3 linked regions of the Homo sapiens genome follow. The protein of the gene in region 1 purifies or fractionates together with the protein of each later gene. This does not show direct contact. Each region holds a gene or a part of one and is shown in the gene's direction. Other genes may lie near its edges.

Region 1 (3,750 bases):
CCAGTGGCCTCCTAACTGGCTTCCCGGCCCCAGCTTTGAGACTCCCATCAGACCACTCTTCACGTTGCTATCTAAGTAACTTAAAAACAGACATAATGGGCTGGGGGCAAGGTGGCTCACACCTGTAATCCCAGCACTTTGGGAGGCCGAGGTGGGTGGATCATGAAGTCAGGAGATTCAGACCATCCTGGCCAACATGGTGAAACCCCGTTTCTACTAAAAATACTAAAAAAATTAGCTGGGTGCAGTGGCGTGCACCTGTAGTCCCAGGTACTAGGGAGGCTGAGGCAGGAAAATCACTTGAACCCGGGAGGCAGAGATTGCAGGGAGCCGAGATCGCGCCACTGCACTCCAGTCTGCCTCTCAAAAACAAAAAACAGACATAATGATCAAGTTATTTCCCCTGCAACCCTGCTGAAAAAAACCTGAATAGCTTCTACCAAGCACTCAGATTAAAGTCCCAAATCCGGCCGGGTGTGGTGGCTCATGCCTGCAATCCCAGCACTTTGGGAGGCCGAGGCGGGCAGATCACAAGGTCAGGAGTTCCAGACCAGCCTGGCCAAGATGGCGAAACCCCATCTCTACTAAAAATACAAAAATTAGCCAGGTGCGCTGGCGTGCGCTGGTAGTCCAGCTACTCCGGAGGCTGAGACAGGAGAATCGCTTGAACCCAGGAGGCGGAGGTTGCAGTGAGCTGAGATCGAGCCATTGCACTCCAGCCTGGGTGACCTGGGTGACAGAGTGAGACTCTGTCTCAATAAATAAATAAATAAATAGGTCCCCAATCCTCACCTGTTCTCGCCTACCTCTTCCCACACTCGCAGTCTACTCCACATTCAATATTCTTTAGCGCTCCCCATTCTGGCCATGCCAAGACCTCACCCCTTGGAGCAACTAACTCCTCCCAACTCAATTCCTCAGATTCTACCCTCTTCATCCTCAACTAAATCAATTCCCCCATAAAGATTCTCTTAGTACCATATACCTCTCAGAAGATTTTTACTAATTGAAAACTTAATTTTGTCTGATTCTCCCATGAATGTTTTCCTTCTCCACCAGATCTCAAACTTCATGAGACCAGGGACTCCGTTGACCCCATATGGTACTCCCAGCTCCTTGAACACGGAAGAAGCCTCATTACATAAGTAATAAAAATAAAATAAATTAGGAAAATGGGAATTATAAAGGGATGGGCTGGTGGCTGCTTACAATCCCTTCAGTGGTAATACCTGGTGCAAAGTAATGAGTCTCTGCCCTTTTCCAAGCAGCCTGCTAGGTGGAATGAAGGAAGGCCTTGCGACTCAAATAGGGAGAACAAACGTGTGATCCAGAGCGGCGGGCAGAAATCCGACGAAACCCCATATTACTCAGGGGCGTTGCTCCTAGGGCGAGGGTGGCTCGGTTCCTAGAGCTTTTTGAGAGGAGGAGCTTACCTGGAGCAACTCAGCACTACCTGCAGCGGCGCAGCTCAACCAGCCCAGAGACCGCGTGGGAAGGCGGGCTAGGGGAGGGGCCACGCCTTCCAGGGCCCATCCCCGCCCCTGCGGCGTGCGCGCGCCCGTCCGCCCGCTCCCTTGCGCGTGCGCCGCCGGCCGGGGGCGGAGGTTGTGGGCGGTGGCGGCTGTGGCGGGGGCGCGCGCGCGCTCGCTCTCTCGCGCCGGTTCGCCCTCCCGCGCCGGGGCTGAGGCGGCGGCGGCGGTGGCGGTGACTGAGGCGGCGGCGGCTGAGGCGGCGCGGGGGGAGGGTCGGGAGGGGGGGGTGGTTGTGGGGGATGGACCGGGTGCGGCGGCCGCAGTGGAAGGAGCAGGCGCTTGAGCTCGAGCGACGGCGCTGGCGGAGACGCCGGCTGCTCCTCCCCTCCCCGCCGGTGAGTGAGCGCCCCCGCCCCGGACGCTGGCGGCGGTCGCGGCCCCCTCACGGCCCTCCGCGGTGGGTGGGGACAGTCGTGAGGGAGCGTGGCCTGGCGGCGCAGCGGACGCGGGCCTGGCCTCCCGCTCGCGGCCTGTCGGGGCTGGGACCTGCCGTCGCCCCCGTTCGAGGTTGAAGCCCCGGGCCTAGGACTCGACCCCCAGCATCCCACGGGGCCTCTTTCCTTTCCCGGCTCATTCCGCTGTCATTTTGACCTGGGGTTCCCCTCCAGCCCCTCGCCTCGTTCCCTTCCCAGCATCCCAGGGCCGAGGTGAGGGAGGGGCGTGTGAGAAGTCGGGCCGAGGCCCGAGGGACTGTTTAGGAGCCGGTTCCCGTCGGAATCTGGGGTTTTAGGAGCCCTCGATCGCCATGGCGTCCCAGAAGTTAGCCACCAGGACTCAGCCATTTCCACCTGAAACCAGTTTTGCACCTATTGTTTTGATTTTGAACTGTCTTTCGAGGGGAGGAGGGAGCCCGGCGTACTGGGGAGAATATGTAGTGGGAGGTGGGATGTGAGGAGGAGCTGGCTGGGCTTGGTCTCGGCCTCAGGATGCCCCCTGTTAACCCCTGTAGGATAGGGGAAAGAGGTGCAGCGAGTTGCACCTTCCCTAAAGGGCCAGAGATTCGTTTATAGCTTGCGAATCTCTGCTTTTTCAGCCTCGGTAAAGGGGTATCATTTGTGGTTGGTTTGGTTCGTCCCTTAACAACATTCTTGGTGAGGAATCCCCAGGTGAATCTGCCACGGAGTGAAGCAGCCCACTTGAGCTGTTGGCTACCCCCGGCCCCCGCAACGCCCGTTGGCTTTTGTGACACGTTACACGTTAGTGTTGGTAGAGCCTAGCCGTCAGAGGTACCTGTACCATAAGCATCTCTACGAAAGGTGTGAATTCCTAAATTAGCTTATTCTGTTCTTAAAAAAAAAAAATCCAGGGCATAAATATCAGATAGCTGCTTTAAAATAAAACAAAACTTTGATTTGTTCCAGGAGGTAGATACATTTTTTTCTCTGTATATTAGGAGATTGAAACTCAAATTGTGAGTAGGTGGTAGTTTTACTAGTGTCATGTGACAAAACGATGCTTATAGATGGGATTTTAACTTAATAACCCTGTCCTCTACCAACAGAGTTGGCTTGTATTTTTTTGCAATCACCCACTCTCTGGCTAGTGTAGAAAGATTAAAAAGCTGCTTCTGGTCTGTGGGTGGTAACCTTTTAATTTCTGAAGAGTTTTGAGCTGCTTATAGATTGCTGATCAGCAGCATAGGAAAATTTTAGACGTTAAAAATTCATTAGCATGTGATGTAGAACTGTTATAATTATGAGCATTGATTAAGATTTGGTATGGTGTAGGTGCTGTGTACTGTGTATAAGAATGAGATTTCTCAGAGCATTTGCATCTTAAGATAAACAGAAGCACAGACCGCTGACAGTGTTGGGACACCTTGCAGAAGGACTCTTTTATGAGCACAAAAGACCTGTAGTCTACAATTTGATGAAGAACCCCAGTGCCCTAGACTAGTTGGTGACCAACCACCATTACTTTAAACTGGGCCTTCTTGATAGTAGAATATTTCCCCTTTTCTGCAAGACTGCTTATGCCTCTCATAAATGTGCAGAACATATAATGGCTCAGGGCTTAGGTTTAAGCTCCTCAGAGTGGCATTTATGGATCATTCATTAATTCATCAAATGTTTATTGAGCCCTTACTTTGTTCCAGGATGTTTTCTAAGTACTGGGCTACATTGTTGGGACAAAACAGACAAGGCCTCTTCCCTAATTAAGCTTTATTCTGTATGTATGGGAATGAGGAATATACAACAAACAAGCAAATAGGATCATT
Region 2 (3,650 bases), on another chromosome or scaffold:
CAGAGCTATGAGGTGTCACCAATCCCTAAGACTTTTAAGGGTAATATAGAGAAAATTGGCTTTTTTTTTTTCCACTGTTGGCCTAGGATTCAACTTTCTTTGGTCTGTTAAAACAGCATTGCTTTGTATATCTGTTTTCCAGCTTCTAACACTTCTGTCCTTCTCTTTTTTCTAGTGTTTTATGTCTTTCTCTCTTTAAAAAAAAAAAAAATCTCTTGCTGGGAATGGTGGCTCATGCACGTAATCCCAGCATTTTGGGAGGCCGAGGCAGGTGGATCACGAGTTCAGGAGTTTGAGACCAGCCTGACCAACATGGTGAAACCCTGTCTCTACTGAAAATATAAAAATTAGTAGGGCATGGTGGTGCATGCCTGTAATCCCAGCTACTCAGGAGGCTGAGGCAGGAGAATCACTTGAACCTGAGTGGCAGAGGTTGCAGTGAGCCAAGATGGTGCCAGTGTACTCCAGTCTGGGCGACAGAGTGAGACTCTATCTCAAAAGAAAAAAAAAATCTCTTAACTATAATCTTAGTGTGATGTGGGCTGGGATTAGAGGCTACATTAAGCCCCATCTTTAACCAGAAATCTCAGGCATGAGATGGTCTCATTGTACTAGGTGATATCCAGAACTGATTTCATTTCTTCAAGGTTTGAGTTCACTTTTTAAATATTTATTTTGCTTTCCTAGGTGCCGACCTTTACAATTTCAGCCTTCAAAATCTCACAAGAAGGTTTTGAAAAAAATGTTGAAATTTCTAGCTAAAGGGGAGGTTCCCAAAGGAAGTTGTGAGGGTAAGATGGGCTGGGTCTAAAAACGATTTACTATCTGTCTTTGCAACGGTCCCACTTTCAGTCATCTTGGGAAGGGGAAGGGTCATTAATACAGTCATGTACTGCTACTACTATGATGACAGCGACTACTGTTAGCACTGCTATTACTGTTACCATCGGCCCCCAAGTCAAGGCATGGGAATATATATCAGAAGAGTTTAGCGTGGAAAGAATATTGAGGATCATGTTAAATTTGTGATTTCTTGGAGTTTATCAAAATATCTGTTTCCAGAATGCTTTGATAACTCATCTTTCTTGATCCTAATACTATCCTTATGAAGTAAATAGAAAGTGCCATTGTCTCTCAAGAAGCAAGTGCTTACATGCAGCTTGGACAAGATTGCCCTATTCCTTTTAATGCTGAATAAAGATCAGCTTTTCTGTGTTTGAATAAGGCTTTACTTCAGTAAATTATACTGTTTGAAATCCTCTTATTTGTGTGATCAGTTTTGAATTGTGAGTGGCTTTGCTAAAACATAATAGCATTTATTTAACTTTAGTTACACATGATTTGCTTTTTTTCTTAGTCTTTTTACTAATTTTGGTTTTATTTCTTTAAATTTTCATATTGGGGCCGGGGGCAGTGGCTCACGCCTGTAATCCCAGCACCTTGGGAGGCCGAGGCAGGCGGATCATGAGGTCAGGAGATGGAGACCATTCTGGTTAACATGGTGAAACCCTGTCTCTACTAAAAATACAAAAAATTAGCCTGGCGTGGTGGCAGGCGCCTGTAGTCCCAGCTACTTGGGAGGTTGAGGCAGGAGAATCGCTTGAACCTGGGAGGCAGAGGTTGCAGTGAGCCGACATTGTGCCACTGCACTCCAGCGTGGGTGACAGAGCAACAAAAAATTGGCCGAGCTTCGTGGTGCACGCCCGTAGTCCCAGCTACTCGGAGGCTGAGGCACAAGAATCAGGGAGGTCAAGGCTGCAGTGAGCCAAGATCCTGCCACTGCACTCCAGCCTAGGTGACAGAGCAAGACTCTGTCTCCACCAAAAAAAAAAAAAGGAATTAGGTTCTGAGTTAGAAAAATGAACATGGAGATAAGCATTGAAGATGCTGTCCATTTGTAAATTGGTGGTTGCCTTTCTTTTATTTTTGGAGACGGAGTCTTGCTCTGTCGCCCGGGCTGGAGTGCAGTGGCTCAATCTTGGCTCACTGCAACCTCCACCTCCCGGGTTCAAGGCATTCTGTTGTCTCCGCCTCCCGAGTAGCTGGGACCACAGGCACCCGCCACCACATCTGGCTAATTTTTTTGTATTTTTAGTAGAAACGGGGTTTCACTGTGTTGGCCAGGCTGGTCTCAAACTCTTGACCTTGTGACCTGCCCGCCTTGGCCTCCCAAAGTGCTGGGATTACAGGTGTGAGCCACCACATCTGGCTGCCTCTCTTTCTTTTGTAGTGTTTATATTTGGTTGTTTATTTGACTTGTTACAGGCTTCTGAATTATCTGTGCCTGGAACTAGGAGTGATGTACTCATTAGAGTAAAGGAATAAACAGCTATGACAAAAAGATACCAAAATGCAATAACTAAAAGAAAGATAAAAGTCTGTTTCTTTCGGGGCCGGGTGTGGTGGCTCACACCTGTAGTCCCAGCACTTTGAGAGGCCAACACAGGCGGATCACGAGGTCAGGAGATCAAGACCATCCTGGCTTACACGGTGAAACCCTGTCTTCTCTAAAATTACAAAAAATTAGCCGGGCTTGGCCGGGCATGGTGGTTCACGCCTGTAATCCCAGCACTTTGGGAGGCCGAGGCAGGTGGATCACGAGGTCAGGAGATCGAGACCATCCCGGCTAACACAGTGAAATCCCGTCTGTATTAAAAATGCAAAAAATTAACTGGGCATGGTGGTGGGCGCCTGTGGTCCCAGCTACTTGGGAGGCTGAGGCAGGAGAATGGCGTGAACTTGGGAGGCGGAGCTTGCAGTGAGCCGAGGTCGCGCCCCTGCACTGCAGCCTGGGCGACAGAGGGAGACTCCTCAAAAAAAAAAAAGTCTGTTTCTTTCCTCACATAACAGTTCAGTGTGGGTGTTCTAGGTTGGCGTTCAACTCTTCTCCCCACCAGCCATTCTGGGCTTTTCTTTAACATGTGATTTCCCAGGTTGCTCTGGTTTTTACTAATCCAGCCATTGTGGGGAAGGGTAGAAGTTCAGGGTCGCAAGTTTCCTTTAAAACTAGTGAGGCATAATTGGATGTATCAGTTGTGTTATGTTCTGTTGGCAGGAGCTTGGTCACCACTTGTAAAGGGACTGGCAGTACATTGCCCTGCTAGGGCGCCACAGTTTTTGTTTTTTTTTTTTTTTTTTAATTTACTGTAGAGATAGTGTCTCACTATGTTGCCCAGGCAGGTCTTAAACTCCTGGCCTCAAGCAGTCCTCCTGTGTTGGCCTCCCAAAGAGCTGGAATTACAGGCATGAACCACCATGCCCAGCTGTGCCAGTCTTAAGTGCAGCTCTCTTATTTTGGAGGATGAGAATGGATTTGGTGGACAGATAGTAATTCTGCCACAATGGATAATAGGAACATTGTATTTCTGTATTTACCTAACTGTATCAAATAACCCAGCTGATGGATTTTTAATTTCTTCTGATTTGTAGATGAGCCCATGGATTCCACAATGGATGATGCTGTTGCGGGTGACTTTGCATTGATAAATAAACTGGATATACAGTGTGATCTTAAAACACTCAGTGATGACATCAAAGAGAGTTTAGAGAGTGAAGGAAAAAATTCAAAGAAAGAAGAACCTCAGGAATTACTTCAGTCACAAGATTTCGTAGGAGAGAAGTTGGGCTCTGGTGAACCGTCACATTCAGTT
Region 3 (3,650 bases), on another chromosome or scaffold:
TCAAAGCATAATGTCACCCCTTCTGAAATGCCTTCTTTTCAATGTCATGTCTAAAGTAGCCCGCTTTATCTTGGTTTCTAGCACATATCTTATTTTCTTTGTAGCATTTAGAAATTGTGTAGTTTAGTTGTTTTATATTTATTGTTTGTTCATTTCTTTAGAATGAAAATTCCATGGGACTGAGCCCTTATTTAGCTTGTTCACTGATGTATCCCCAGAACCTAAAACAGTGCCTATTAGGTTTTTCAGAAAATATTTGGGGAGTAATGAATGAATAGATGAATACCTGAGAGGTAGCATGTTGTGCTGGTTAAGAACATAGTCTCGCTGGGTACTTGCCTGTATTCCCAGCTATTTGGGAGGCTGAGGCAGGAGGATCACTTGAGCCCAGTAGTTGGAGGCTGCAGTGAGCTATGATAATGCCTGTGAATCTGTGAATAGCCACTGCTCCAGTATGGACAGGATAGCAAGACCCCCATCTCTTTTAAAAAACAAGACCATAGGCTCAAATCAGACTCATGGGTTCAAATCCTAGCTTTGCTCTGCTGAGACTGTATAATCTTGGGCAGGTTGCTACACTTTTTAAACTTCAGTTTGCTTATGAGTGTAATGGGGCTAACAATGATAACTAGTTGATAGAGTTGTTTTGAGAATTAAATGAGATAGCATGCAAGCCACTTCACTGTGCCTGGCATTTAATACTTGTTCAATGAATGTTAATTTTATTACTGTTGGTGTTGATATTGTTAGGCCACCCTTGTGCTACTCCAGGAATTACCATTAAATTTAAAAATTTCTGCATGTGGCAAAGAATTGCCCACAGGACAGCTTGATCACTTACAGTGAAGAGAATCTGCCATTATGACTTTCAGTTTAGAGTGTATCTTTGAAAATACTATTTTCTCTGACCATGGTCCTTTAGTAAGTAGAGTGTGTCTCTCTCAGTCAGTTGTCTGGCAGGTTACTGGTTTCACTTGCTGTGGAGAATAATTGCCTGTCTCTTTGAGATGTTCCAGGGCCCTTAATTTTCACATAAGCCATGCAGCTTATATTTTAAGTTAAGGCTTCTCAAATACACACCTCACATTTAGTGAAAATCTGAAGCAGTGGACAGCCAGAGACTTAATTTTATTTATATATTTTACATTGCAGGTCCCCAAGCAAACTGACTTAGCTTTTGTGTCTTACATTCCTAGGTGAGATTTGGCTCATTTGGGGCCACATGTCCACTCACATGTCACCTGTGTGTTACGCCCCTTTAGGCACTGTGGCAGACTCTGTAGGAAGAAGTTATGAGGCTGCCACAGTTACATTGTGATCAGAATTTTTATTCTATTGATGATTTTGAAAACACAAATTCTGGTTTTGGACAGGACCCAATAGCAGTTCTTGACTTCTTTCCCCTACCGTGTTTTAAGCTCTTGGAGGACAAGAAGGAATTTTGTTTTTGTTTGAGACAAAGTCTCACTCTGTCGCCCAGGCTAGAGTGCAGTGGCGAGATCTCAGCTCACTGCACCCTCTGCCTCACGGGTTCAAGCAATCCTTCCACCTCAGCCTCCTGAGTAGGTGGGACTACAGATGGTACACCACCATGCCCAGCTAATTTTTGTATTGTTTGTAGAGATGGCGTTTCACTATGTTTGCCTAGGCTGGTCTCGAACTCCTGGGCTCAAGTGATCCGCCTGTCCTGGCCTCCCAAAGTGTTAGGATTACAGGCGTGAGCCACCTCGCCCAGCCAAGTTTTACCTTTTTTTTTTTTTTCCTTTTTTTCTCGCTGTGTTGCCCAGGCTGGAGTACAGTGGCAAAGTCATGGCTCACTGCAACCTTGAGCTCCCCAGGCTCAAGTGATCCTCCCACCTCAACCTCCCAAGTAGCTGGGACTGCAGGCATGTGCCACCACACCTGGCTAATTTTCGTATTTTTTGTGGATATGGGTTTTCACTATGTTTGCCCAAGCTGGGCTCAAGTAATCCACCCACCTCGGCCTTCTAACCAGCCTCCCAAAGTGTTAGGATTACAGGTGTGAACCACTGCGCCCAGCGTGTTGCTTTTTTCCCTTGTCCCCCGCTTCTAGTTTAATACCTGATAGGTAATCACCAAATGTGTTTGAATGTGTTTAATGAGAATTCCTAGTGGGCAGAAAAATTATTAAGGTAAATAGATTCGGGCAGAAAAGAGTGGGATAATCCTCTGGAGTATTGTAGGTAGTTTAGATTTGTTTATGAAATTGTTCCATTGTCTGGGACTAGTTACCATAAAGACTCTCTAACATCACTTTTGTCTGTTGACACAGTTCCTAAGCCTGTGTTTTTTTTTTCTTGTGTCTAAAATTCTAATTTTATTTTATTTTTTTATTTTTTTTGGAGACAGAGTCTCGCTCTGTCACCCAGGCTGGAGTGCAGTGGCGTGATCTCAGCTCACTGCAACCTCTGCCTCCCGGGTTCTAGCGATTCGCCTGCCTCAGCCTCCTGAGTAGCTGGGACTACAGGTGCATGCCGCCATGCCCGGCTAATTTTTTTGTATTTTTAGTAGAGACAGGGTTTCACCGTGTTGCCCAGCTGGTCTTGAACTCCTGAGCTCAGGCAATCTGCCAGCCTTGGCCTCCCAATGTGCTAGGATTACAGGTGTCAGCCACTGCGCCTGGCGTAAAATTCTAATTTTAATATAGAATTTTATGGTTGCCTGAGCTTTAGGGTTTAGGGAGGAATATTCAACATCCAAGTTAATAATCATTTTTCTTTTCAGGACGTGGCTTTATTTCTCCAAGAATTTAATGCTCCTGATATATTCATGGGAGTACTGGCCAAGTCCAAGTGTCCTCGATTAAGAGTAAGTATGTACATTTCTAAAGCCTTCTTCTTTGAAGCAATAAGAACAGATAGTGCTGGATAGTCTTTTATTTTTCTCACTTTGATTTTCTTACTGACCATAAATCAACAAATCAGCCTGTAGATGTTAATTGAACATTGCCAGGTCCTAGGTAATTTGCTATTTAAATTTATTTTATTTTATTTTTGAGACAGGGTCTCACTATGTCTCCAGGGCTTGGAGTGCAGTGGCGTGATCACGGCTCACTGCAGTCTTGACCTCCTGGGCTCAAGGGACCCTCCCACCTCAGCCTCCCAAGTAACTGGGAGTATAGGTGTAAGCCACCACACCCAGCTAATTTTTATTTTTATTTTGTGGAGACAAAGGTCTCCTTATGTTGCCCAGGCTGGTCTTGAACTCCTGGCCTCAAGTGATCCTCCCACCTTGGCCTCCCAAAGTGCTGGGATTATAAGCGTGAGCTAAATGCCTGTAATAATTTAAAATATTAAATTATTAATAATTTAATAATTTAAAATTATGAAAATCATAGAATTTTAGATTCAGGCCGGACCAGGGAAATTAGCACTTTCATTTACCAGCTGTGGAGACGAGTTAGGCATAACCACTGTTATGCTGCTAGTATGTATCAGAACAAGGAACAGAGCCTGGGCCTCCCATTTTTCAGTTGATTTCTCTTTTTTACTGACAAAATCCACCATTGCTTGAAAACCATTCTAAACTCAGCCTGCTGCTTAAGACCTCTACTCTCTGAACCTAACTCATCTTTCCAGCATAAAATCTGGATAGCCAGGTAACCCTTCTGATTTAGCCAGACCTTTCTA

Evidence for each region.
Region 2: the proteins of TMCC1 (region 1) and ATE1 purify together in Homo sapiens (co-immunoprecipitation; one large-scale study listed by IntAct). This does not show direct contact.
Region 3: the proteins of TMCC1 (region 1) and SAAL1 purify together in Homo sapiens (co-immunoprecipitation; one large-scale study listed by IntAct). This does not show direct contact.

Annotation. Positions count from the first base shown.
Region 1 is NC_000003.12:129,891,611-129,895,360, reverse strand, and holds the start of TMCC1 (transmembrane and coiled-coil domains protein 1), read left to right. Parts: upstream 1-1,649; 5' UTR 1,650-1,867; exon of another isoform or gene 1,868-2,179; intron 2,180-3,750. UniProt on the Homo sapiens protein: Endoplasmic reticulum membrane protein that promotes endoplasmic reticulum-associated endosome fission.
Region 2 is NC_000010.11:121,910,931-121,914,580, reverse strand, and holds part of ATE1 (arginyl-tRNA--protein transferase 1), read left to right. Parts: intron 1-687; coding exon 688-791; intron 792-3,429; coding exon 3,430-3,650. UniProt on the Homo sapiens protein: Involved in the post-translational conjugation of arginine to the N-terminal aspartate or glutamate of a protein. This arginylation is required for degradation of the protein via the ubiquitin pathway. Does not arginylate cysteine residues.
Region 3 is NC_000011.10:18,095,950-18,099,599, reverse strand, and holds part of SAAL1 (protein SAAL1), read left to right. Parts: intron 1-2,745; coding exon 2,746-2,829; intron 2,830-3,650. UniProt on the Homo sapiens protein: Plays a role in promoting the proliferation of synovial fibroblasts in response to pro-inflammatory stimuli.